Linked DNA regions of Homo sapiens: regions 1 and 2 are each linked to region 3. The links come from fine-mapping of genetic effects on gene expression. A gene starts in region 3. Each other region holds a variant in brackets. All regions are shown on one strand. Distances are from middle to middle. Region 1 holds the start of LOC124909380 (a long non-coding RNA gene). Region 2 has its middle 20 kb from the start of CACNA1D. Region 3 holds the start of TKT (transketolase).

The links. PIP is the estimated chance that this variant, and not a neighbour inherited with it, causes the effect.
Region 1: its variant is the best candidate, but not a certain one, in a credible set for the expression of TKT in whole blood (TOPMed, PIP 0.51).
Region 2: its variant is the best candidate, but not a certain one, in a credible set for the expression of TKT in whole blood (INTERVAL, PIP 0.79).

What each region holds. Positions count from the first base shown.
Region 1 is chr3:53,322,496-53,330,809 of GRCh38, reverse strand. The region is part of intron 3 of DCP1A (decapping mRNA 1A); the gene reads left to right. It overlaps LOC124909380 (a long non-coding RNA gene), which reads right to left and starts at 7,645. Exons shown (of 2, transcript XR_007095912.1): 1 at 7,569-7,645; 2 at 3,976-4,103. The variant G/T (reference allele first, on the strand shown) is at 3,819.
Region 2 is chr3:53,470,696-53,479,009 of GRCh38, reverse strand. It overlaps the pseudogene RPS25P4. Among named protein-coding and RNA genes, the nearest start is that of CACNA1D, 20 kb to the left of the region's middle. RefSeq lists a silencer at 1-188 and an enhancer at 5,290-5,793. The variant G/A (reference allele first, on the strand shown) is at 4,998.
Region 3 is chr3:53,252,360-53,260,673 of GRCh38, reverse strand. It overlaps TKT (transketolase), which reads left to right and starts at 4,652. Exons shown (of 14, transcript NM_001064.4): 1 at 4,652-4,838. The coding sequence starts at 4,732. RefSeq lists silencers at 1,807-2,101, 4,366-5,055 and an enhancer at 1,807-2,101.

The DNA.
Region 1 (8,314 bases), 70 kb before region 3:
TATATTGTGTTTTACCTTGTTTTTAACCAACGTGATTAACTCGGATACATACCTTAATTCAGTGACATTTATTGAATATGTCATTTGCCAAGCACTTTACCAGCTGCTATACCATATAGATTAAAACTACTGTGCGCTTATAAAGAATTTTGTTTATATTTTTAGTCCTTAGGTTCTATTATATTTTCTTAGAAAATTATAAGCTGAAGTTACTAAACTGCGTTAGAACTTTCTATGTCAAAACTCTGCCTTCTTGGTAAGGGTGAAGATTCTTTTTTTTTTTTTTCTGAGACAAGGTCTCACTCTGTTGCCCAGGCTATAGTGTCCAAATGATCCTCCATCCTCAGCCACTGCCCTGAGTAGCTAGGACTATAGGTGTGAGCTACTACACCAGCTAAATTTTTTTCTTTTAAATAGAGATAGGGTCTCTGCAAATTTTTTGTAGTGATAGGGTCTTGCTGTGTTGACCAACCTGGTCTCCAACTCCTGGCCTCAAGCGATCTTCCCACCTCAGCCTCCCAAAGTGCTAGGATTACACTATAGCCACTGCACCCCGCTGGGTCAGGATTCTTAATGAAATGTGCTACTACAGTAAGCCCAAAGCTATGCATGTTTATTCTTAAAACAACTCCCTGTAGATTAATGATAAAAATTAATGATTTAAGGTCTGTGATTTGAGAGTTATTGCTTGTAAATTTGAATGACTGGGCTAGTAACAGTGACAGTCTGATCTACCAGAGAGACAGTAAGGGTATGTACATATTTTTTCTTGGTCATTTTCAGCAGCAGTACTCACCCATTGTTGGGAAAGAGTATATGGTCTTGATTTTCTCTTCTCAGACCTAACCTTATTCTCACCATAGACCAGTGTGTAATGGTAGTTTTAACCAAAAACAATGATTGTTTTACTTTATGTGCATGTTAGATACGGCATCTTTTTACTGGAAGTTTATCATTTATAAGGACAACTTTTTCATGTTTCCTTCATGTAACACCCTAAGGCATGTATCTCCCACTTAATGCCACTTTTTGTATTTTTTAATGTTTTCTGTAAAACCAAAAGCAGTTTTGGGAAAATGGACAAAGCCCTTTTGAGTTTTTCAAAAGAACACAGACATTTCCCGAATTTTATTTTACCTTGACAGGTTTAAACAATTACAAGTTTGTGGTTTGTATGAAACACTTTCAAAGTGATCCTATGTGAGTAAAATCTGATCTGAAATTTTCTTAAAAAGGAGTTAATGTCATATATCTACTAGTCTAATATGTTGCTCTTTAGCTTGCTTAACCGAAAAAGACAATTACCTCTTAAGTATAATTTAAAATGTTAAATATTATTGCTATTTAATATTTTTAAGAACTTACCTCCAAAAGCCAGAGAGAAGTACCCCTTCGTTTCTGCTTCACTTATCACTTTTCCTTTATATCGGGCATCGATCTCTTGATACATAGTGCTTTTAATGAAAATTAGATCACTAGAAAAAGTAGGGAGGTTCATTTCCATAGTGTTGAAAATGCCACTGCCAAATGGAAAGTTTTAGTAGAAGAAATGCTGTAGTGTGTGCTTTTTTTGTCTCTCTGCTTGTCCTTTCTCAGTTCAAGGGCAAGTCTCAGAACAGTAGAGATGGTAGGTGGCTGTTGGCATTTGGAGCAAATCTTCAGACTTTTAAAGCACAGCGCAAGAAATTTCCTTACAAGATAAGTTTACAATTTGTCCAATCCAAAAATGTGAGTTCTCCCTCCACACTGAAAGAGGAATTCATAAACAACAAGAAAATTTCCGTGATTCATTCTTTGATATCTTTGAATTCAGTGCAGTACTTCTTTCTTAGCCTGAAGAAAGGCAGTCTTCCACCATCAGTTGCGGCACCGCTGTGCTTGGTATGATTCTGTAATCAGTGAAGGAGAAAGGGTCTGTGGCAACTGCATTAGTCTGGCCTTCTGGACCAAGATAAGGAAAGAGCCTTGCTGTTGCCACATTTGTAGATTGAAGAGGTAAAATCACCACGAAAACATAGAGGGACTTAAGGCTCAGTGGCTGAGTCTGACTCAGTGACACTGTTAGTTCAAATGTTTTAAAAATACATATATTGCTTTCTGGCTCATTGTAGGCGCTGCTTAGTATTCTGGTAGAGCCTTTACCAAGTGCCTTCTTGGTAACTTTGTAAATCCATGAACATTTCAGAATTTCCAAAGCAGATTCTTTTCATTATGATTCACTAATTACTGGCTTTTTCCTCCTCAGGTAGTGTTGTCAGATAAAAGCACTTTTTATCTTTTTTTTTTTATTGTGGTGTTATCTAAATTGTAAAGATTTGTAAAGTTAACCATGCCTGTATCATTTATCTTTTAGATAATTATGTTAAATATTCAATACTTCAAATGTTTTTTCTTTTGAGAACTCACAAAGGAAATCATTGTTTGTACTTAAGTGACAGAAATATGTTAACATGTAATATGTAGGTTTTCACCTTCTGTTTACACAATGAAGTTATCTGTGTAGGTAAAAATTGAAACAGAGTAACCGCTAGTCTAAGCGAAGCTCCTCTGGAGTGTGCAGAATAAACCTCCAGACTGGGCCCTTCAGGTTCAGTGTGCTGGAGGATCCAGGCAGGTCTGAGTCACTTACAAAGTCACTGCTTCCAGGCATGCTCAGCTTCTGCTTTTTCTTTTCTTTTTTTTTTTTCCTGAGACGGAGTTTTGCTCTTGTCACCCAGGCTGGAGTACAGTGGCGCAATCTCGGCTCACTGCAACCTCCACCACCCAGGTTCAAGTGATTCTTCTGCCTCAGCCTCCTGAGCTGGGATTACAGGCACACGCCACCATGCCCGGCTAATTTTTGTATTGTTAGTAGAAATGGGATTTCACCATGTTGGCCAGGCTGGTCTTGAACTCCTGACTTCAGGTGATCCACCTGCCTCGGCCTCCCAAAGTGCTGGGATTACAGACGTGAGCCACCACGCCCGGCCTTTGTTTTTGTTGTTGTTGTTTTTTTGTTGTTGTTTTGTTTTGTTTTTTTGAGGTGGAATCTTGCTCTGTTGCCCAGACTGGAGTGCACTGGCACAATCTCAGCTCACCGCAACCTCTGCCTCCCAGGCTCAAGCAATTCTTCTGCCTCGGCCTCACCAGTAGCTGGGATTACAGGCACATGCCACCATGCCTGGCTAATTTTTTGTATTTTTAGTAGAGATGGGGTTTTACTATGTTGGCCAGGCTGGTCTTGAACTCCTGGCCTCAAGTGATCCACCCACCTTGGCCTCCCAAAGTGCTGGGATTACAAGCGTGAGCCACCGCACCCGGCCAGCTTTTTCTTTTTAATAAAAGGAAAGCACAGGCTAAGCATTTGCTACCAACATTTAAAAATTACCATATTTTATACATCCTTAACCTGGATTTCTGATTTTTCTTGTGATAAAATGACGTGTGTGACCACACAGCACTTGGATTCCTGCAAGTACTGCAGTCAGCCAGAATTGTAGGTAAGACATTTTCATCACTGATCTCACCACACCCTGAGGTCTCTTATAGTCCGTGAGGTATTTGTGCTTACAACCCTGCTGTGGATGATCGATTAGTAAATTGGTAGAAAAATGTGTAGGAGAGTAGAAGTTAGGGAAAGTAGAGAAAAGAAGTTCCCCCCCTTTTTTACACCCCATCTGACCTATTTCCCAGATCCCTAACTATAGATTTTTGGAAGCCTAGGAAATGGGAATTCAAATCCATGGAGGTCAGGGGCCATGCTTCCCCCTGCCTTTGTCTCTCCCTTATGATACATAAAGATGATATTTGTGTGGGATACTAGAGCGACTAGAATACCA[G/T]TTGGGGGGGGGGGGTTGGACATGTCCAACATTTGGCAGAACCGTAATCATTTACACCAGCATTCCCCAACCTTTTTGGCACCAGGGACCGGCTTTGTGGAAGACCATTTTTCAATGGACGGGGATTGGGGGATTGTTTCAGGATGATTCAAACACATTACATTTATTGTGTACTTTATTTCTATAGGTGTTGTAATAAATAATGAAATAATTATGCAACTCACCATCATGTAGAATCAGTGGGAGCCTGGAGCTTGTTTTCCTGCATCTAAACAGCAGTTCCATCTGGAGGTGATGGAAGACAATGACAGATCATCAGGCATTAGATTCTCATAAGGAGCCACAATCTAGATCCCTCGTATGTGCAGTTCACAGTAGGGCTGGAGCTCCTATGAGAATCTATTGCCACAGCTGATCTGACAAGAAGCAGAGCTCAGGCAGTAATGCTCTGTTGTCTGCCACTCACCTTCTGCTGTGCAGCCTGGTTCCTAACAGGCCACAGACCAGTACCAATCCGTGACCCTGAGGTTGGGGACCCCTGATTTACACCACACTTTGGAAGCTGTATTTTAAGGAGCTATGGGTACTGTGTGGCAGTAGCAGATATACATCCTAACAGCAAAGGCAAAACCCTAGTGCAATTCACTGTTTTACTTAGGGTTGCCCATTGTTTAAGAATAAAACTTTTGCAAGTGGGAGTAATCAGTTGTGATATTGTTGGGTTTATTTTCCTAATTCCTAAAGAAGTTCAATGGTCATTTCATGTGTCTAAATTCTGTACTGAGATTATAATGTTAATGGGATTGTGGAAGGAGTATTTCGGGTTAATATATTCAGATTTGATTTAATTTAGACAGAGGCACCAAATTTTTAAATGATAAACTGAAGACCTTGAAGAGTAGCATTTTAAAATTACCTGTCCTAAGTCTTTTAATCATTGTTCAATATTCAATAAGTAGATATTACAATTTAAATTTTAGAAGTTGGACTCTTTCTCTACCATATTAGTGTTCAGTGGTGGTCTGAAATGAGTGGGTTTTTTGGCCAAAAGGGTTAAGCTGCAAAGATAATTGAATGACATTTTCCAGAGTTTCTTGCGGATATACAACATCTCATCTACCTAAGTGTTTGTAACATGCCAAAATCTGTTATGATCCCACGTCAGTCAGTCTTAGGCTCCATATCCTTTTTCCTGTGTGTGTGTTTTCTGCCCCTCTATCCTAGAGCCTTTCTTGTCTTCTCACTCTTTCCTAACCCTTTGATGTTCTTAGAGAGCCTCCATGCTTATTCTTGTCTTAAAGGAAATGATCTGCTGAGGCAGAGGTATTTGCCTTTTCACTTGCCAGGCCTGACTTATGTTTATATACCTATTCCATTTTTCTATATAAAAAATGTATTTGTCTATACCCAAAGCCCGTTTTCTTGTTTTTGTTTCCTGGTGTAAGAGATCTTTGTCAGTATCATCTTTAGAAATTGCATAACTTTTTTTCTCTTTATTTATTTTCTCAAGCACAGAGTTTCAGGAAAAAGAAATTTTATAACTCTTAACATCACCACCAAAAAGCTTTTTATTAAACCACCTTTTTGCTTGGCACCATACTGAGAAAATCTCCAGCCTCCTCAGATCCTTCTAGAAAGTAGGTTAGATCTAAATAATAAATGAATCACAAAGACAACATATGTATGAGAGTGATTCCCAGCTCTGTTTCTGTGACATTTCACAGCATCTCTAGAAGTCTCAAGGGATTTTACGAAGATACCAAATTAATTTGGCTTTTCTTGATCTTGTGTGAGCCATGTACCTCTCTCAAGATGAGAAACAGTGAAATATTTTATATGAAATCATAATAGGTTGCTATATCTTTAAACGGGTCTAAGGAAATAGAAAACTCTTACTCAAAACTCCACTTCTTAAAATTTCTCAATACAAAATAGTTCAAATACCTTTAATTTTTGTAATTTGTATTTTTTTTTACATTTTCAAAAGAAAGGGGCCTTCATTTGAAAAGCAAAGGAAACATTTAATGTTTGATATTCTTAGATGGATCTGGATATTTTTTGTGGAAGGCAATGAAATGTCCTATCACACCTCCTAACTTTTTTCTTTTTTTTTTTTAGTTAACAAATTTTTAAAAAATAAACAAGGTCCCACTGTGTTGCCCAGGCTGGTCTTGAACTCCTGGGCTCAAGTGAACCTCCTGCCTCAGCCTCCCAAAGTGTTGGGATTAGAGGCATGAGCCACCACACCCAGCCAACTTTTCAATGACTTGTCTATCCTATGCAACATGACTGACTTAGGATAGCTGTTAGCAGTCACAATGTGTGGTAGGTATCCATTAAGTAAGTAGTTTCTTTCATCTTGAGAAAGGCCATTTGTAAAACAGTGTGCCATCATTTGCCATAGCAAGGCAATACTGTATTGCCAAAAGCCTGAATTCTCTGTAGGATAGTTAATCAGAGAAATTTATTTCAGCAAGTGAATTGTTGGCAGAATGTGTTGGGCCTTAGAGTGTAAGTTCTCTAGAGGGAAGAATGCTTAGCTTTGGTTTAAAGGGGAGGTCCTCTGCAGTTTTAGCTATCTGGTGAACTTGTCTGTCTTTCCTCATGAGTGACAGTGACAGGCTCCGTGGCAGCTCCCTGGGCTTTCTTGCCAGTTGCACGCACTGACCGTTTGATATGTTGGCAGACAGAGCTGATTCTTGGATGCGTGTCTGAACCTCTACAGGTCTGCTTTTGGCAGAATCGAGTGTGACTCTTATCCCTTACCCATTAAGCTATCATTATGGCTTTCTTATCTTTATTTCTTCTGCAAACATGCCTTTGAAAGTGTTTGGCTCTTTTTAGGCAGTTTGATAATATACAAAAGCAGAAGGCATGTGTCTTATTTCTAAATTATATTGTATTTTTTCAAAGGAAAAGAGGACATCTTAAATGAAGGTTTTTCAAAATAAGTTGACAGCTTTGATGGACTTACTTTGATTATTGATAAGTAGTTCTTTCCTAAGAGTTCGGTTTAGAAGTCCCTGTGAAAATACACTTAATTGCTTCTGTTTAGCACAGAAAAAATTGTGTGTTCCTCTCTAAGCCTGATGTGTTGCATATCATAAACTTTTTTTTTTTTTTTTTTTTTGAGACAGAGTCTTGTTCTGTCACCCAGACTGGAGTGCAGTGGTGCGATCTCGGCTCACTGCAACCTCTGCCTCCCGGGTTTAAGCAATTCCCCTTCCTTAGCCTCCCGAGTAGCTGGGATTATAAACATGCATCACCACGCCCAGCTAATTTTTGTATTTTTAGTAGAGACGGGATTTCACCATGTTGGCCAGGCTGGTCTCCTCACCTCAGGTGATCCACCCACCTCAGCCTCCCAAAATTCTGGGATTACAGGCATGAGCCACTGCACCCGGCCGCATATCATAAACTTTTCTTATCACTGTGTATTGTTTTGGTATGTCCAGATTAATATAGCTTATTGAAGGAAAACGAATTTTTGTATTTGGACTTCAGTGTTTGGGGTGTTCATTAGCCAAGCTTGGAAGAAGCATATTTCAAGAAAGGTAGTCCTATGTAATTGCCATATATGGAGTCTTTTTAAAGCCCTGATCTGATTTACTGTAGTTAGAGCAAGCCTTAGCCGCTAAGAGCGTAACTAAGAACCTGCAGTAGATAATGCTTAATAATTATCTCTGTAACAAGGCTGCTTCTGTGCTCCTTCCATTGAGATGTTAAAGCTGAGTGAATTTGTTGACTTACCATGATGTAAAACATTCCAAAATTACTTGTTATTCATTGGAGTTTGATTCTGTTTGGAGCACTCAACTCTGTGAAGAAAAGAGGCACTGTGAAAATGGATTCCAAACATGGGAAACTCGGCCGGGCGCGGTGGCTCACGCCTGTAATCCCAGCACTTTGGGAGGCCGAGGTGGGCGGATCACGAGGTCAGGAGATCGAGACCATACTGGCTAACATGGTTAAACCCCATCTCTACTAAAAATACAAAAAGTTAGCCGGGTGTGGTGACGGGCGCCTGTAATCCCCGGGCGCCTGTAATCCCAGCTACTCGGGCGGCTGAGGAGAATGGCGTGAACACGGGAGGCAGAGCTTGCAATGAGCCAAGATCGTGCCACTGCACTCCAGCCTGGGTGACAGTGAGACTCCATCTCTCAAAAAAAAAAAAAAAAGCAAACAAACAAACAAACATGGGAAACTCTTCCCAGCTGGTTGAAGGCTCAGAGACTAGTGAGCCTGGACTTCCTTCAGGTAGTGCACCACTTGTGGGACACATGGCCATACACGGGCTCCATAGATTTAGAGCAGTTTTAGTGTAATTAGAGGTTTTTCCCTGCCTGAGAAGCCCTTTGTAAACAGGGTAGGAAAAAAAATTCTTGTTCATGATCTTCATTCATTAAAATGAAGCCGTTCACTTGCTGTGTGTATCAATAATATTTTCATTAACTCTACAATAACAATAGAAAGACTCAAAATTATATTTCTGTTGA
Region 2 (8,314 bases), 220 kb before region 3:
GGGCTGGCCTGCCCAGTGTCATGACTGTCTCCACCCCTGGGGCAGTGAGGTTAGGAGAGAAGGGCAAGATGTAGCAGTGGCAGGACAGCCTTCAGCAGACTCAGTGCCAGATTGTCCTATATCCCGTTTCTACCCCAAGAACTGTGCTCACTCAGGGGGCAACAAAGACTTCTTTTTTAAAATTACCCTTCTTCTTAAGACAAACTTCTCTAACCCTTCATAGTAATAATTTATTTTTATAATGGGTTTTCATCTCCATGCAACCCTTTAAGCCTCTGAGGTAGGTCAGGGAAAATATTAACACTTCCAGTTCATAAAGGAGTAAACTAGATTCATTATGCTGGGATGTGAGTTTGCCAAGGTTATGCAACTAGTAAATGGTTAAGCCAGAACTGCAGATCAGCTGTCAAAGATCACTGATGCAACAGCAGATAAAAGCCATTTCAAACAGGACAAGTATACTACTCCACCTCCTGCTTCTTAATGCTATTCCCTGAAGAAAAAAGATCCCTTTGTTCTGACAAGTGTGTGGAGAGCAGACTATGCCCTAAAGGCTAATTAAAAAACAGAGGTTCCCACATCCACCCTCCATCCTGGGATTGGACTGGCAGAGACTACACAGAAACACAGACATTTCCAGACAACACAAGGCTATCTATGTGCTCCACTGCATCTAGGCACTGGGGAGTTCCTAGGTCCATGAGAAAGCTGAGAAAGCTACTGGCTAAGGAAGAGAACCCCTGGGTGCTGCTCTGAACAGACGTCATGCAGTGTGGCCATGAACCCAGATCACCTGACTCATTGTCAAGATGAACAGGGCTCTGGCAGGTCAGATCTGCCACTGGATATGTGAAGGGATTCTTTCCCATTATTTTTCTTTTTTCTTTTCTTTTCTTTTTTTTTTTTTTTTTTTTTTTTTTGAGACAGGGTCTCATTCTGTTGCCCAGGCTGGAGTGCAGTGGCAAAATCATAGCTCACTGCAACCTCAAACTCCCAGGCTCAAGTGATCCTCCCACCTCAGCCTCCCATGTAGCTAGGACTCCAGCCACACACTACCACTCCCAGTATTTTTTGTGTGTGTTTTTTTTTTTGTAGAGACAGGGTCTCCTTATATTGCCCAGGCTGGTCTTGGACTCCTGGCCTCAAGTGGTCCTCCTGCCTGGGCCTCCCAAAGTATTAGGATTACAGGTATAAGCCACCACACCTGGCCTCACATTATTTTCCTCAGAAAGATCTGAAATAGGAGAAAACTTTGAAAATTAACGTATTTTCCTTCTCTTGAACTTTAAAGCTGCCACAGCCCTCACCCTCAATTGTAAAGGCTTGAGGATGTTTTCCGGAAACTATGGAGAGTAGTTTAAATTTTCAACCCTTTAAAAAGTTGAAAGCTATCCTTTCAACACTGCCTGTGAACAAGTTTTCATTTTTCTTTCAGTAGAATCTACAAATCACTAAAAAAAATATAGAGGGCATTTCCCCAAGCAATATAGAGGGCAATAAAAAGGATTCCCTATTTAATAAATGGTGTTGGGAAAACTGGCTAGCCATATGCAGAAAGCTGACACTGGACCCCTTCCTTACACCTTATAAAAAAATTAACTCAAGATGGATTAAAGACTTAAACATAAGACCTAAAACCATAAAAACCCTAGAAGAAAACCTAGACAATACCATTCAGGACATAGGCATGGGCAAAGACTTCATGACTAAAACAACAAAAGCAATGGCAACAAAAGCCAAAATTGACAAATGGGATCTAATCAAACTCAAGAGCTTCTGCACAGCAAAAGAAACTGTCATCAGAGTAAACAGGTAACCTACAGAATGGGAGAAAATTTTTGCAATCTACCCATCTGACAAAGGGCTAACATCCAGAATCTATAAAGAACTTAAACAAATTTAAAAGACAAAAACAAACAACCCCATCAAAAAGTGGGTGAAGGATATGAACAGACACTTCTCAAAAGAAGACATTTATGCAGCCAACAAACATATGGAAAAAAGCTCATCATCACTGGTCATTAGAGAAATGCAAATCAAAACCACAATGAGATACCATCTCACGGCCAGTTACAATGGCGATCATTAAAAAGTCAGGAAGCAACAGGTGCTGGAGAGGATGTGGAGAAATACGAATGCTTTTACACTGTTGGTGGGAGTGAAAATTAGTTCAACCATTGTGGAAGACAGTGTGGTGATTCCTCAAGGATCTAGAACTAGAAATACCATTTGACCCAGCAATCCCATTACCGGGTATATATCCAAAGGATTATAAATTATTCTACTACAAATACACATGCACACATGTTTATTGCAGCACTGTTCATAATAGAACATAAAGACTTGGAACCAACCCAAATCCCCATCAATGATAAACTGGATAAAGAAAATGTGGCACATATACACCATGGAATACTATGCAGCCATAAAAAAGGATGTCCTTTGCAGGGACATGGATGGAGCTGGAAACCATCATTCTCAGCAAACTAACACAGGAACAGAAAACCAAACACCGCATGTTCTCACTCATAAGTGGGAGTTGAACAATGAGAACACATGGACACAGGGGGAAGGGGATCACATACCGGGGCCTGCCAGGGAGTGGGGGGCTCAGGGAGGGATAGCATTAGGAGAAATACCTAATGTAGATGACAGGTTGATGGGTGCAGCAAACCAACATGGCATGTGTATACCTATGTAACAAACCTGCACGTTCTGCACATGTACCCTAGAACTTAAAATATTAAAAAAAATTATTTTAACCCCAAAAGTAACCACTAAAAATATGCAAAGAGCTATAGCTAAAAATTAAAATGAAATACTAAACCATATTAATTCCCAAAAAAGGCAAGAAAAGTGGAACCAAGAAACAAGTCATATCAGAAAAATAGAAAACAAATAAAAGTGAGAGAACTAAATCCAACCATATCAATAATTATCTTAAATGTAGATTGACTAAATGCTATAAGAAAAAGAAATAGATTGTTTATAGTAGATAAAAGTTATGATCCAACTATATGTTATCTACAAGAGATACATTAAATACAAAGACACATATAGGTTTAAAACTTAAAAATTTTAAAAGAAATATCATGCAAGCACTAATCATAGGAAATATGGAATGGCTAGATTAATATCAGTCAAAATAGACTTCAGGATAAGAAAGATTACCAAAAATAAAGAACAATATTTCGTAATGATAAAAGGGTCATTTCATCAAAAGGCATAGCAATTATAAATGTGTGTTTAATAACAGCTTCAAAATGCATAAAGCAAAAACTGAAAGAGCTAAAGGGAGAAATAAACAAATCCACAATCATAGTTAGAGATGTTAACACCCCTCTCTCAGTAATTGACAAAACAACTAGATTATTAAAAATCAAAAATGATGTAGAATATCTCAACAATGCTATCAATCACCTTAACCTAATTGACATTTATAGAACACTAGGCCAGATGTGGTGGCTCATGCCTATAATCCCAGAGTTTTCAGAGGCCAAGGTAGGAGGATCACTTAAGGCCAGGAGCTGGAGACCAGCATGGGCAACATATCAAGACCCCATCTCTATTAAAAAATTAGCTGGGCATAGTGGAACATACCTGTAGTCCCATCTATTTGGGAGGCTGAGCACACCACTGCACTCCAGCCTGAGTGACAGAGCAAGACTGTCTCTAAAAAAACTAGAACAAATAAATAAATAAAATAGAACACTAAACTCAACAACCACAGAATATACATTGTTTTCTAACCACGCTGAAATTAAATTAGAAATCAATAACAAAAAGATATCTATTACAGCCCCCCAAATATTTGAAAATTAAACAACACATTTTCAAATAACCTGTGCATCAAAGAAATCACTTTTCGTCTGACATCTCAGCAAGGCTGCAGCGATTGCCGCTGCTCTGCAAGCTTCACAATGCCATCCGAGGACAACAAGAGGAAAGACCCCGGGAAGTTGGCCAAAAAAGACAAAAACCCAGTGAACAAATCCAGGGGCAAAGCCAAAAAGGAGTGGTCCAAAGGCAAAATTTGGGATAAGCTCAATAACCAAGTCTTGTTTGACAATGCTACTGTAAGGAAGCTTTGTATGACAAACTCTGTAAGGAAGTTTCCAGCTATAGGTTTATAACCCCAGCTGTGGTCTCTCAGAGATTGGAGATTCGAGGCTCCCTGGCCAGGGCAGCCCTACAGGAGCTCCTTGGCAAAGGACTTATCAAACTGGTTTCAAAACACAGAGCTCGAGTCATTTACACCAGAAATACCAAAAGTGGAGATGCCACAACTGCTGGTGAAGATGCATGAACAGGTCCAACTGACTGTACATTTGGAAAAACAAAACTTTATTAAATAAAAAAAAGAAATCACAGGGAAATTAGAAAATATTTTTGAACTGAATGAAATTAAAACATATCAAATTTTATGGGATGCAGCACTGCAGTGCCTAGAGGGAAATTTTTAGTGTCTATTGCTTATATTAGGAAAGAAGAAAGATTTAAAATCAATTATTTTAAGTTTCTATTTTAAGAAGTTAAAAAAAGAAGAGCAAATTAAACCCAAAATCTGTGAACGGAGAGAAATCATAAATATAAAGCAGAAATCAAGAAACTAGAAAACAAAGAGTATACAAAAATAACAAATCCAAACGTTGGTTTTTGAAACATTTAATGGAATCAGTAAACTCCTGGTTAGGATGATCAAGAAGAAAGGAAAACAAAAGCTGTTACTACTACAAATGAAAGAAAGGATAGATCCTACAAATATTAAAAGGCTAACACTGAAATAGTATGAAGTGTATTATGGCAAAAAATTAACACCTTAGATTAAAGGAAACAAATTTCTAAAAGAACAAACTTACTAAAACTGACCTAAAATCATATTGAAATTTTTAATACCCTGTATGTTTTTTAAAAATGAAAGTATTATGAGACTTTCCAAGATGGCCGAATAGGAACAGCTTCAGTCTGCAACTCCCAGCGTGATCGACACAGAAGAT[G/A]GGTGATTTCTACGTTTCCAACTGAGGTACCTGGTTCATCTCATTGGGACTGGTTGGACAGTGGGTGCAGCCCATGGAGGACAAGCTGAAGCAGGGCAGGCATCGCCTCACCTGGGAAGCACAAGGGGTCAGGGATTTCCCTTTCCTAGCCAAGAGACGCTGTGACACACTACTTGGAAAAATGGGACACTCCCACCCAAAGACTGTGGACTTTTCCCAAGGTCTTAGGAACCAGCAGACAAGGTGATTCTCTTCCTTGCCTGGCTCGGTGGCTGCCACCCATGGAGCCTTGCTCACTGCTAGCCCAGCAATCTGAGATCAAACTGTGAGGCAGCAGCCTGGCTGGGGGAGGGGCGTCTGCCATTGCTGAGGCCAGTAGGTAAACAAAGTGGCCAGGAAGCTTGAACTGAGTGGGGTCCACCACAGCTCAATCAGGCCTACTGGCTCTAGACTCCACCTCTGTGGGCAGGGCATAGCTGAACAAAAGGCAGCAGACAACTTCTGCAGACTTAAATATCCCTGTCTGACAGCTCAGAAGAGAGCAGTGGTTCTCTCTCACCAGCACAGTGTTTTAGCTCTGAGAACAGACAGACTGCCTCCTCAAGTGGGTCCCTGACCCCTGTGTAGCCTAACTGGGAGACACCTCCCAGTAGGGGCCAACAGACACCTCATATAGGTGGCTGTCCCTCTGGGATGAAGCTTCCAGAGGAAGGATCAGGCAGCAATATTTGCTGTTCTGCAGCCTCCACTGGTGATACCCAGGCATGCAGGGTCTGGAGTGGAACTCCAGCAAACTCCAACAGACCTGCAGCTGAGGGACCTGACTGTTAGAAGGAAAACTAACCAACAGAAAGAAACAGCATCAACATCAACAAAAAGGACATCTATACCAAAACCCCATCTGTAGGTCACCAACATCAAAGACCAACGGTAGATAAAACCACAAAGATGGGGAGAAACTGGAGCAGAAAAGCTGAAAATTCTAAAAACCAGAGTGCCTGTTCTCCTCCAAAGGACTGCAGCTCCTCACCAGCAATGGAACAAAGCTGGATAAAGAATGACTTTGACGAGTTGACAGAAGTAGGCTTCAGCAAGTCAGTAGTAACAAACTTCTCCAAGCTGAAGGAGGAGGTTTGAACCCATCACAAGGGAGCTAAAAACCTTGAAAAACAATTAGATGAATGGCTAACTAGAAAAAGGGTGTAGAGAAGACCTTAAATGACTTGATGGAGCTGAAAACCATGGCACAAGAACTTTGTGACACATGCACAAGCTTCAATAGCCGATTCGATCAAGTGGAAGAAAGGGTATCAGTGATTGAAGATCAAATGAATGAAATGAAGCAAGAAGAGAAGTTTAGAGAAAAAAGAGTAAAAAGAAACGAACAAAGCCTCCAAGAAATATGGGACTATGTGAAAAGACCAAGTCTATGTTTGATTGGTGTACCTGAAAGTGATGGGGAGAAGGGACCCAAGTTGGAAAACATTCAGGATATTATCCAGGAGAACTTCCCCAACATAGTAAGGCAGGTAAACATTCAAATTCAGGAAATACAGAGAACACCACAAAGATACTCCTCCAGAAGAACAACCCCAAGACACATAATTGTCAGATTCGCCAAGGTTGAAATGAAGGAAAAAGTGTTAAGGGCAGCCAGAGAGAAAGGTCGAGTTACCCACAAAGGGAAGCCCATCAGACTAACAGCAGATCTCTCAGCAGAAACCCTACAGCCAGGAGAGAGTGGGGGCCAATATTCAGCATTCTTAAAGAAAAGAATTTTCAACCCAGAATTTCATATCCAGCCAAACTAAGCTTCATAAGTGAAGGAGAAATAAAATCCTTTACAGACAAGCAAATGCTGAGAGATTTTGTCACCACCAGGCCTGCCTTACAAGAGCTCCTGAAGGAAGCACTAAACATGGAAAGGAACAACCAGTACCAGCCACTGCAAAAACATGCCAAATTGTAAACACCATCGATGCTACGAAGAAACCTCATCAATTAATGGGCAAAATAACCAGCAAACATCATAATGACAGGATCAAATTCACACACAACAATATTAACCTTAAATGTAAATGGGCTAAATGCCCCAATTAAAAGACACAGACCGGCAAATTGGATGAGGAGTCAAGACCCATCAGTGTGCTGTATTCAGGAGACCCATCTCACATGCAAAGATGCACATAGGCTCAAAATAAAGGGATGGAGGAAGAACTACCAAGCAAATGGAAAGCAAAAAAAAGCAGGGGTTGTAATCCTAGTCTCTGATAAAACAGACTTTAAACCAACAAAAATGAAAAGAGACAAAGAAGGCCATTACATAACGGTAAAGGGATCAATTCAACAAGAAGAGCTAACTATCCTAAATACATATGCACCCAATACAGGAGCACCCAGATTCATAAAGCAAGTCCTTAGAGACCTACAAAGAGACTTAGACTCCCACACAATAATAACAGGAGACTTTAACACCCCTCTGTCAATATTAGACAGATCAATGAGACAGAAGGTTAACAGGGATATCCAAGACCTGAACTCAGCTCTGCAACAAACAGACCTAATAGACATCTACAGAACTCTTCACCCCAAATCAACAGAATACACTTTCTTCTCAGCACCACATCGCACTTATTCTAAAATTGACCACATAATTGGAAGTAAAGCACTCCTCAGCAAATGTAAAAGAACGGAAATCACAACAAACTCTCTCTCAGACCACAGTGCAATCAAATTAGAACTCAGGATTAAGAAACTCACTCAAAAATGCACATCTACATGGAAACTGAACAACTTGCTCCTGAATGACTACTGGGTAAATAATGAAATAAAGGCAGAAATAAAGATGTTCTTTGAAACCAATGAGAACAAAGACACAACATACCAAAATCTCTGGGACACATTTAAAGCAGTGTGTACAGGGAAATTTATAGCACTAAATGCTCACAAGAGAGGGCAGGAAAGATCTAAAATCAACACCCTAACATCACAATTAAAAGAACTAGAGAAGCAAGAGCAATCAAATTCAAAAGCTAGCAGAAGACAAGAAATAACTAAGATCAGAGCAGAACTGAAAGAGATAGAGACACAATCAATTGATTCAAAAAATCAATGAATCTAGGAGCTGGCTTTTTGCAAAGATCAACAGAATTGATAGACCGCTAGCAAGACTAATAAAGAAGAAAAGAGAGAAGAATCAAACAGAGGCAATAAAAAATGATAAAGGGGACATCACCACCGATCCCAAAGAAATACAAACTACCATCAGAGAATAATATAAACACCTCTACGCAAATAAACTAGAAAATCTAGAAGAA
Region 3 (8,314 bases):
AGTGTCAGTGTGTGTGTGTGCCAAACAGTTCCTGCAATCTGGGATTCGTCATGCCCGGCCCAAGTGCAGCCCCCTCTGGGTCCCCAAAGTACAGGGGACATGAAGAGGTGGGACATGACTTCCTGACACTGCCAGTCTCTTATGCAAGGTGCCCCTGCCCAGTATGGCTAGACCGGTCCTGGCATTTCAGGCTGAAGGGCAATTCAGAACTCTCTGCTTCACATTCCACTCTAGGCAGCCAGTACAATCCATCAGCACTGCCTTGGTGATCAAAGCCATTGCCCAGGAACAATACTGGGTGGCATGGCACCCCTCAGGACCCCAACCCCCCTCAGGTCCCTTTTAGTGATACTGGAGATCCCTGGGGAGTGGCTGTGGGGGACTCTTACGTGGGGACTCACACTGTTCTGGCTCCTCTAAGGGTGACCTTCTCCCTAGTGCTGCACGGGTCCTGGGGGACAGCTCAGATTCCAGAATGTGGCTCTGCTCTCAGGTCACTGTGGCCTCTGCTGGCACCTGATGCCGGCAGTAGGACATTTCTGCCACTTCCTACCCTCCAACAGAGCACCTTTGTGTCTCGGTTTCTGGAAAGGCCGGAATGAAGGACACCAGTCTGAATGGCCAGATTCCCTCCCCTGAGGCCTCCCTGATGCCCTCTTGGCTTGGGTGCAGCCCTGGCACTTGCTGACTCTGTGTCCTCAGGCACATCACTTGACATTCATGCTTTCATTCTGCAGGCATTCATTGAGCCCCTATTGTATATGAGACCCAGTTGTAGTCCCTGCGGATAGAGCCAGGGACAAGAGATTGTATTCCGGCTCTCCGGGAGCTGACCAAAGATCATGCAGATAGGCAGAGAGCCCTGCAGAGACCAAGACAGGCAGTGTGATGGGCAGCATGGCTCTAGATCCAGGCCATGTGAGGAGCCTCAGGAAGGGCTCTGCTGGCTCAGGGAGCAGCCTGTGCAAAACCTCTAGGAGGGAGTGGGCTTGGTATTTTTTAAGGAATGCGAGGTCAGTGTGGCTGAGATGGGTAGGGCTGGGGGACCTGAATTATATCCAAAGGGTGGAGGAAGAACAACATGGGAGTTAAGCTGGGGAGGAACACTTCTCTGGCAGCCATGGGGAGGGTGAACAGGAGGCTGAGAGAGGATGGGGTGTGAGGGCAGCAGGGAGCCAGATGTTAGCTGGAAGCCAGACAGGATCCCAGGGCTTTCTTCCAAGTGCCATGTGACTTCTGAGGCGTGAGGGTTCGAATAAAGACCCTGGGACCTGGGGACAAGGGAACCACCCTGGACAAACTGGGTGCTAGCAACACCTCCAGCTAGCCTAGGATTCTGGTTCTGAAGCTGACCTTCAGGAAGACCAAGAGCTCTTGAAATAAGGCTGAACCCTTGGGCCCTGTGAAAGGGAAAACACTCAAACTCTGTTTTTCCTCTGTTCTCACACCACAACAATTAACACAAAAGACTCCTGTGATCAAATGTGTGGGGGTTTCTCCCCATGCACCAAGCAAGCAACCAATTCTGCAGCAACACCAGCTGGGTGTCCTCCAACTCTATTCCATTCTGATGCTAATTACCTGGAGATAGCCTCAGAAACCACAGGTTAAGGATTCAGTCCCCCAAGAGCACCTCCTCCTTCCCATGAGTCGCAAGATTGGGACTGACCAGCTTCAAGTTGGGGTTCCCACCACTCCCTCTTTGGGTTCAATTAATTTGCTAGCGCAGCTCTCAAAACTCAGGAAAGCACATTTATCGGTTAGTTACAAAGGATATTTTAAAGGAGACAAAGAAACAGTTAGGCAAAGAGATACATAGGCGGAGGCCTGGAAAGGTCCCTAGTGAAGGAGCCATTGTCTCCATGGAGCTGGAATGTTCCACCCTCCCAGCACGTGGATGAGTTCTTGTTCACCTTCCTGTGAGCCTCCACGTGTTCCGCTGTCCAGAAGCTCCTGAACCCTGTCCTCTTGAGCCTTTCATGGACATTTCATTGGACAGACATGATTGACAACCTTGTGGAAATGTGATTAGACCAAAAGTATATGATCTAATACTAACTGACTGAGTGGGGAAACCCCGCAAGACCTGTGTGTCCTGACTCTTCTTGACCTCTCTGTGAAGCTCACTGTCTGGTAAAAGGGCAGACTCTTGAAACCTTTTGAAAACTCTGTGCCATCCAACTCTGTGGCCCTTAGGACAGTGGCTCCCTAAGGGAGTGGCCTCAATTTCCCCATCTGCCTAACGGGACTCATCCTTATCACTCTGCACCCACTCTGGTCTTCCCTCCTCATGGGTATGGGACAGAACCCCTTCTCATGGGGGTCTAATGACCTACAATTACACGAGGTAGGTGAGAGAACTTACTTATGGCCAGCTCCAAGACAGACCGGCAGGAGAAGATCCTGCCATGGGGAGAGAAAGGAGCAGGTGAAAGGAAGGTAGGAGAAGGCCTGAGAGACTCTGTTTCTGGGGTCTGCTCCTGAGGTCTAAAGCACCCCAGTGGTATAACAAGGGTTGGGGGCAGTTCTAAGCCAGGGGCCTGTATATGCATATCATAGTATCACAGGCCCCATTCATGTGGAACACCAGGAGGAGAGAGAGCCTCCCTGAGGTCCCTGGAGCTCCAGGTGGTGGGGAGGGGACAATTTTCTTTCCATTACTCCTAGGTCCCCAGAGCCATGGTGAGTTCTGTGCCATTGTCAGAGACCAGAGTGATAAGGATGAGTCCCATTAGGCAGATGGGGAAATGGAGTCCACTCCCTTAGGGAGCCACTGCTCTAAGGGCCACAGAGTTGGAAGGCACAGAGCTTTCAAAGGGTTTCAAGGGTTTGCCCTTTTTCCAGACAGTGAGCAGCTTGAGGGCAGAGGTGGCACCTGCCAGGCATCTGAGGGTGGCACACTGTGGGGCCCCCCTCCAATCCTAGCCCATAGCCCTCACCAGCCAGACACCATAGGGCCAGCCTCTGCGGGCTGGGCCAGCAGGAGCCAGGTGCTATGGGATGCCATACTTAGGGTCTGATTGGGCATCTGGGGGTCAGGCCAGCAGAGGAGCACCTGGAGGCGAGCTGGGGGACTCACTCAAATTCAGTCAATCGCCTCATGAGCCAGAGCTCTCTGAGTATGGGCAATGCAGGGAGGACACAGAGGACACAGGGCGGCCACTGGTGCCTCTTGGATCTCTCAGGGTTTTAGCTCCCTGCCCAGCCATCCGTTTGAGGGTCTTGCCTTTATCTTTCCTCTGTCAAATGGAGCTTCTTCCTCTGTAAAATAGGCATTGTAGGCAGTATGTACCTCACTGGCCAAGTGTGGTGGGCAGATTGAATGAAACAGTGTCTGTGATGAAAGTCCCCTCCCTAATCCCACTCTGGGGAGCTTCATACCTCTGGGAACCATGGGGTCTGATAACAGTAGTGGTGGGTGCCCCTGTCCCTACAGACCTGGAAGCAAACCCAATAATCTCCCTAAAAGTCAGTAGTGTTTCTAGGCCCTAATAATTTGTAAAGGATCTTCCCCTAGTAATTTCTCAGTTATCATCACCTGGCATTGTCATGGCTACCACTATCCTATTCTCATTTTCAATAATCCCCATCCCCTGTGCAGGGCTCTAAAGCCCTGAGTGGCTGGGCATGGTGGCTCATACCTATAATCCGGCACTTTGGGAGGCAGAGGAGGGCAGATGGCTTGAGCCTAGGAGTTCAAGACCTGCCTGGGTAAAGTGGCAAAACCCCATCTCTACAAAACATACAAAAATTAGCCGGGCGTGGTAGTGTGTACCTATGGTCCCAGCTACTTTTGAGGCTGAGGCAGAAGGATCACTTGAGCCCAGGAGGCTGAGGCTTCAGGCAGCTGTAATCACTCCACTGCATTCCAGCCTGGGTGACCATGGGTGACCCCGTCTCAAAGAAAAAACAAGTTTTTTAATTATTAGAAAAAAGAAATAGGGCCTGGTGCGGTGGCTCACCCCTGTAACCCCAGCACTTTGGGAGGCCGAGGCGGATCACCTGAGGTCGGGAGTTCAAGATCAGCCTGACCAACATGGAGAAACCCCGTCTCTACTAAAAATACAAAATTAGCTAGGTGTGGTGGCGCATGCTTGTAATCCCAGCTACTAGGGAGGCTGAGGCAGGAGAATTGCTTGAACTCAGGAGGCGGAGGTTGTGGTGAGCCAAGATCATGCCATTGCACTCCAGCCTGGGCAACAACAGCGAAACTCAGTCTCAAAATTAAGTCCTGCAGTCTCTTGGGCCTGGGGTTGGTCGGCTGGGGCCAAGCCTGGCACCCACCAGCCTTGTGACCTTGATTGCCCTTGCCAAGCCTCAGTTTGTCCATCTCTAAAATGGGATTCGCCGTGACAAGTCCACGGAGGACTGTGTGGAGGAGGGAGACTGAGAGGCTTTCGAGTCAGGAGCCCAGACTCGAATCCTGAGTTGTTCGTTATGTTATTATTATTGGTGTGTGTGGTTAACTGCTAACCTCGCAGTCCGCAGCGGCCCAGCGCCTAGGGGAGGGGAGCGGGCAGGAGGCGGCCCCAGGCGGGGCGGGGCTGAAGGCCTGGGGTGATCCGAGCCCCGCCTCCTCCCCCTGCCCCGCCTCTCCCATCCCCGCCCCGCCCCGCCCGGCGACTTAACGCGCCCCCGCCCCGCGCCCGGCCTCGGCAGCCGCCTGTCGCCGCGGGAGCAGCCGCTATCTCTGTGTGTCCGCGTGTGCGCCCGGTCCCCGCCTGCCGCACCATGGAGAGCTACCACAAGCCTGACCAGCAGAAGCTGCAGGCCTTGAAGGACACGGCCAACCGCCTACGTATCAGCTCCATCCAGGCCACCACTGCGGCGGGCTCTGGGTGAGTGCGCGGCGCCGGCCGGGGACGCGGCTCGGGCGGGGCGGGGGGCGTCTGCGGCGGCCAGAGTCGCCGCGGGCTCTGGGTCGCGCTGCGAGATGCCTAGACGAGGAAGGTGGCCCGGGCGCCGTCGGAGGGCGGAGACGCGCGCCTCGCAGGGCCCCGGGCTGCAGGCGGCTTCCGCTGCGCCGCACACTCGCCCTACGCCCGGGCTCGGCCGCGTGGGCCTCTGGTCCTCCGTGCGCCTCAGGCCGGCTCTTCCCCACGCGGATCGCCGGCCGCGCAGCTGCATGGTGGCGCGGGGGATGGGCTCGCGACTCGCCAAGTACCCTCTAGGGTGATGCCGGGAAGGCCACCATTACTGCTGTTCTACAGAACGCGGCCCTCTTAACCCTCTCCACCACCTGGCTGTGTGGGCGCCGCCGGGAGTGTTCCCCCTTCCAGATGGGGAAACGGAGGCTCCGAGTTAGTCAGCTACCCAAAGTTACACACAGGGAGATCTGATTTGAGCCCCAGCAGTCCGACTCTAGAGACCCTGTTTTTAATTCCTCTTGCAGGAGACTCGGGGGCCCGGCCTTCTCCCCACCTCAGACTACGCTCCCCTACCCCTGTCTCCTGCCACCCCTGGGTTGGGTCCGAGTTTGGAGCAGGGGGCTGCTGAGACGCCAGGCAGCGGCGGGGCTGATTGGGGGAAGAGGGGAGGAGGGCGGTGGCACGTGGGTGCAGAACCCTGGGATCCATTGTGAAAAGGAGGTCTAAGATTTGACCTGGGGCGGGAGGAGGCGGAGGGCAAGGAGACTGAGAAGGCTGAGCGCCGGAAGGACGGAGTTCCAGGGCCCTAGCGCCGGGAGTGACGTCCTGGGGCAGGGCCAGCCACCAGGTGCTGTATCTCCCAGGCAGGAGCTGGCGTGCCTAGGCCCCAAGATCCTTCCCTGGCCAGCCCTTTTGGCCCAGAAGGTGGACACCCAAGGAGCCTCCTCTGTAGCGGAGACAGGGATAATTAATGAGGGCCACCGTGCATGCAGCTGGAGGTGTCCAGTGGGGTGGGTGAGGGGGTCAGTCAGTGAATTACTTCAGAGCCTGCTTCCCGCTCTGTAAAGCGGGGACAGTAATGGCACTTAACCACGCTGGGTGGTTTCAAGGACTCCAGTGCTCTACTTGGAGGCTGCTTTGAGGCCACAGTGCCAGCAGTGCTCCGGGCTCATGACAGGGTTGTGAGGGCTGCGTGATGGATGATTTCTCGGGACCTTCCCAAACAAGCTCTGTTTCAGACAGACAAGATTCTGGCTTCTGGCCAATTTCATTCAGGATATATTATTAAGAAGTAAATCTGTTCACCTTTCTGGGTGGATACGCATTCACCCTTTGTGCCTCTAAGACACCCTGTTCTCAGAAGGGATTAGATGTCTTTCAAAGCCCTTCCCCCACCCACTGCCTTGCACACTTTGGACCTGTTAGCTCTCCTGGGTTTGTGTCAGTCTTACCACTTATGTGGGGTATCCCCTGCCTGGGCAGGGACCTGGCTTACTCTCAGCTCCCCTTTCACCAGCCTGGCACACGGTAGCTCTGCAGGCCTTGTATTGCTTATTTGGTACTGTTGGACCTGCTACCTTTGGCCGTTTCAGGGGGTCTGAGGTCTAGCTGGAGAGAGGCAGCAATTACCCAACTAAGTAGTATTGCACATCTGAGCATCTTTCAGGGCTAGATAAAACATGCAGATGTTTACAGGGTTCCTGAGCTGCCAAGTAGGTATCTGGTATGACACAGCATCATCGTTTGTTGCATCCTGAGAATAACCCTGTGAGATAGATTGTGTTGTATTCACATTTTATAGACGGGAACACTGAGGCTAGTGTGTTAAGTTACTTGCCCAGGCTGGGAATTGGTGGCCATTCCGTACTGTCTGGTTGGGGCTCATGCTGTCAGGAATGCTTCTTGGCAGGGCATGGTGGTTCATGCCTGTAATCACAGCACTTTGGGAGGCCAAGGTGGGAGGATTGCTTGAGCCCAGGAGTTCCAGACCAACCTGGGCAACACAGTGAGACCCCATAGCTTAAAAAAAAAATTTTTTTTTTGAGATGGAGTCTTGCTCTATCGCCCAGGCTAGAGTGCAGCAGCACAATCTTGGCTCACTGCAACCTCTGCCTCCCAGGTTCAACTGATTCTCCTGCCCTAGCCTCCTGAGTAGCTGGGACTACAGGCATCCGCCACCGCACCGGCTAATTTTTGTATTTTTAGTAGAGATGGGGTTTCACCATCTTGGCCAGGCTGGTCTCTTGACCTCAGGTGATCCACCCACCTCGGCCTCCCGAAGTGCTGGGATTACGAGTGTGAACCACTGCCCCCGGCCAAACATTTTTTTTAATTGGCTAGGTGTGGTGATGTGTACCTGTAGTCCCAGCTACATGGGAGGCTGAGGCAGAGGATCACTTGAGCCCAGGAAGTTGAGGCTGTAGTGAGCCTTGAACATGCCACACACTGCAGCATGGGTGACAGAGTGAGACTGTGTCTCAAAAGAAAGAAAGAGAGAGAGAGAGAAAGAAAGAAAGGCCAAGAAAAGAAAAATAGTTGGGCATGGTGTTACATGTATGCCAGCACTTTGGGAGGCCAAGGCAGAAGGTTCGCTTGAGGCCAGGAGTTCAAGACCAGCCTGGGTAACATTAGCAAGACCCTGTCTCCAAAAATAAATAATGTTTCGGCCAGGCGCAGTGACTCATCCCTTTAATCCCAGCACTTTGGGAGGTGTAGGCGAGTGGATCACCTGAAGGTCAGGAGATCGAGACCAGCTTGGCCAACATGGTGAAACCCTGTCCCTACTAAAAATACAAAAAATTAGCTGGACGTGGTGGCGGGCGCCTGTAATCCCAGCTACTCAGGAGGCTGAGGCAGGAGAATCACTTGAACCCGGGAGGCAGAAGTTGCGGTGAGCTGAGATTGCACCATTGCACTCTGGCCTGGGCAACAAAATTGAAACTTCTTCTCAAAAAAAAAAAAGAATGCCTCTTGGGCAAGCAGTCTGTGCCAGGCTGGAGAATGGTGAAAAAGGTGAAAGGGAAGGCCAGGTACAGCCGCGGTGGATATTAGTCAGTCTGAAAGGCACTTGGAGAGAAATAAGATTTACAAATGTAGGGTGCTCCAAAAGAGTGGAATGTCAAGTGTGTCTCCTAGTTCTTTGTTAGGCAAAGTCTGATTTCCTCACCGCCGTTACCCCTCCGGAAACATACTGTGGTGTCCGAGAGTTACACCATGTTTACATTGTAATGTCTTGGAGAGGGAAGCTCACTGAACTCAAAAAATATCCATTTGCAAAAGAAAAAAAGGATATGTAAAATACAGTGACTGTGTGTGTGTATGTATATGTTTAAAATATGCAAAAAAGGAGGGAAAACTTATTTTTCAGAAGGAAATAACGTTGCTATGCAACCCATATTTTGAAAGTTGTGAGCCAAGAGTATGTGTGTGTTTGCACCCAAAAGCTA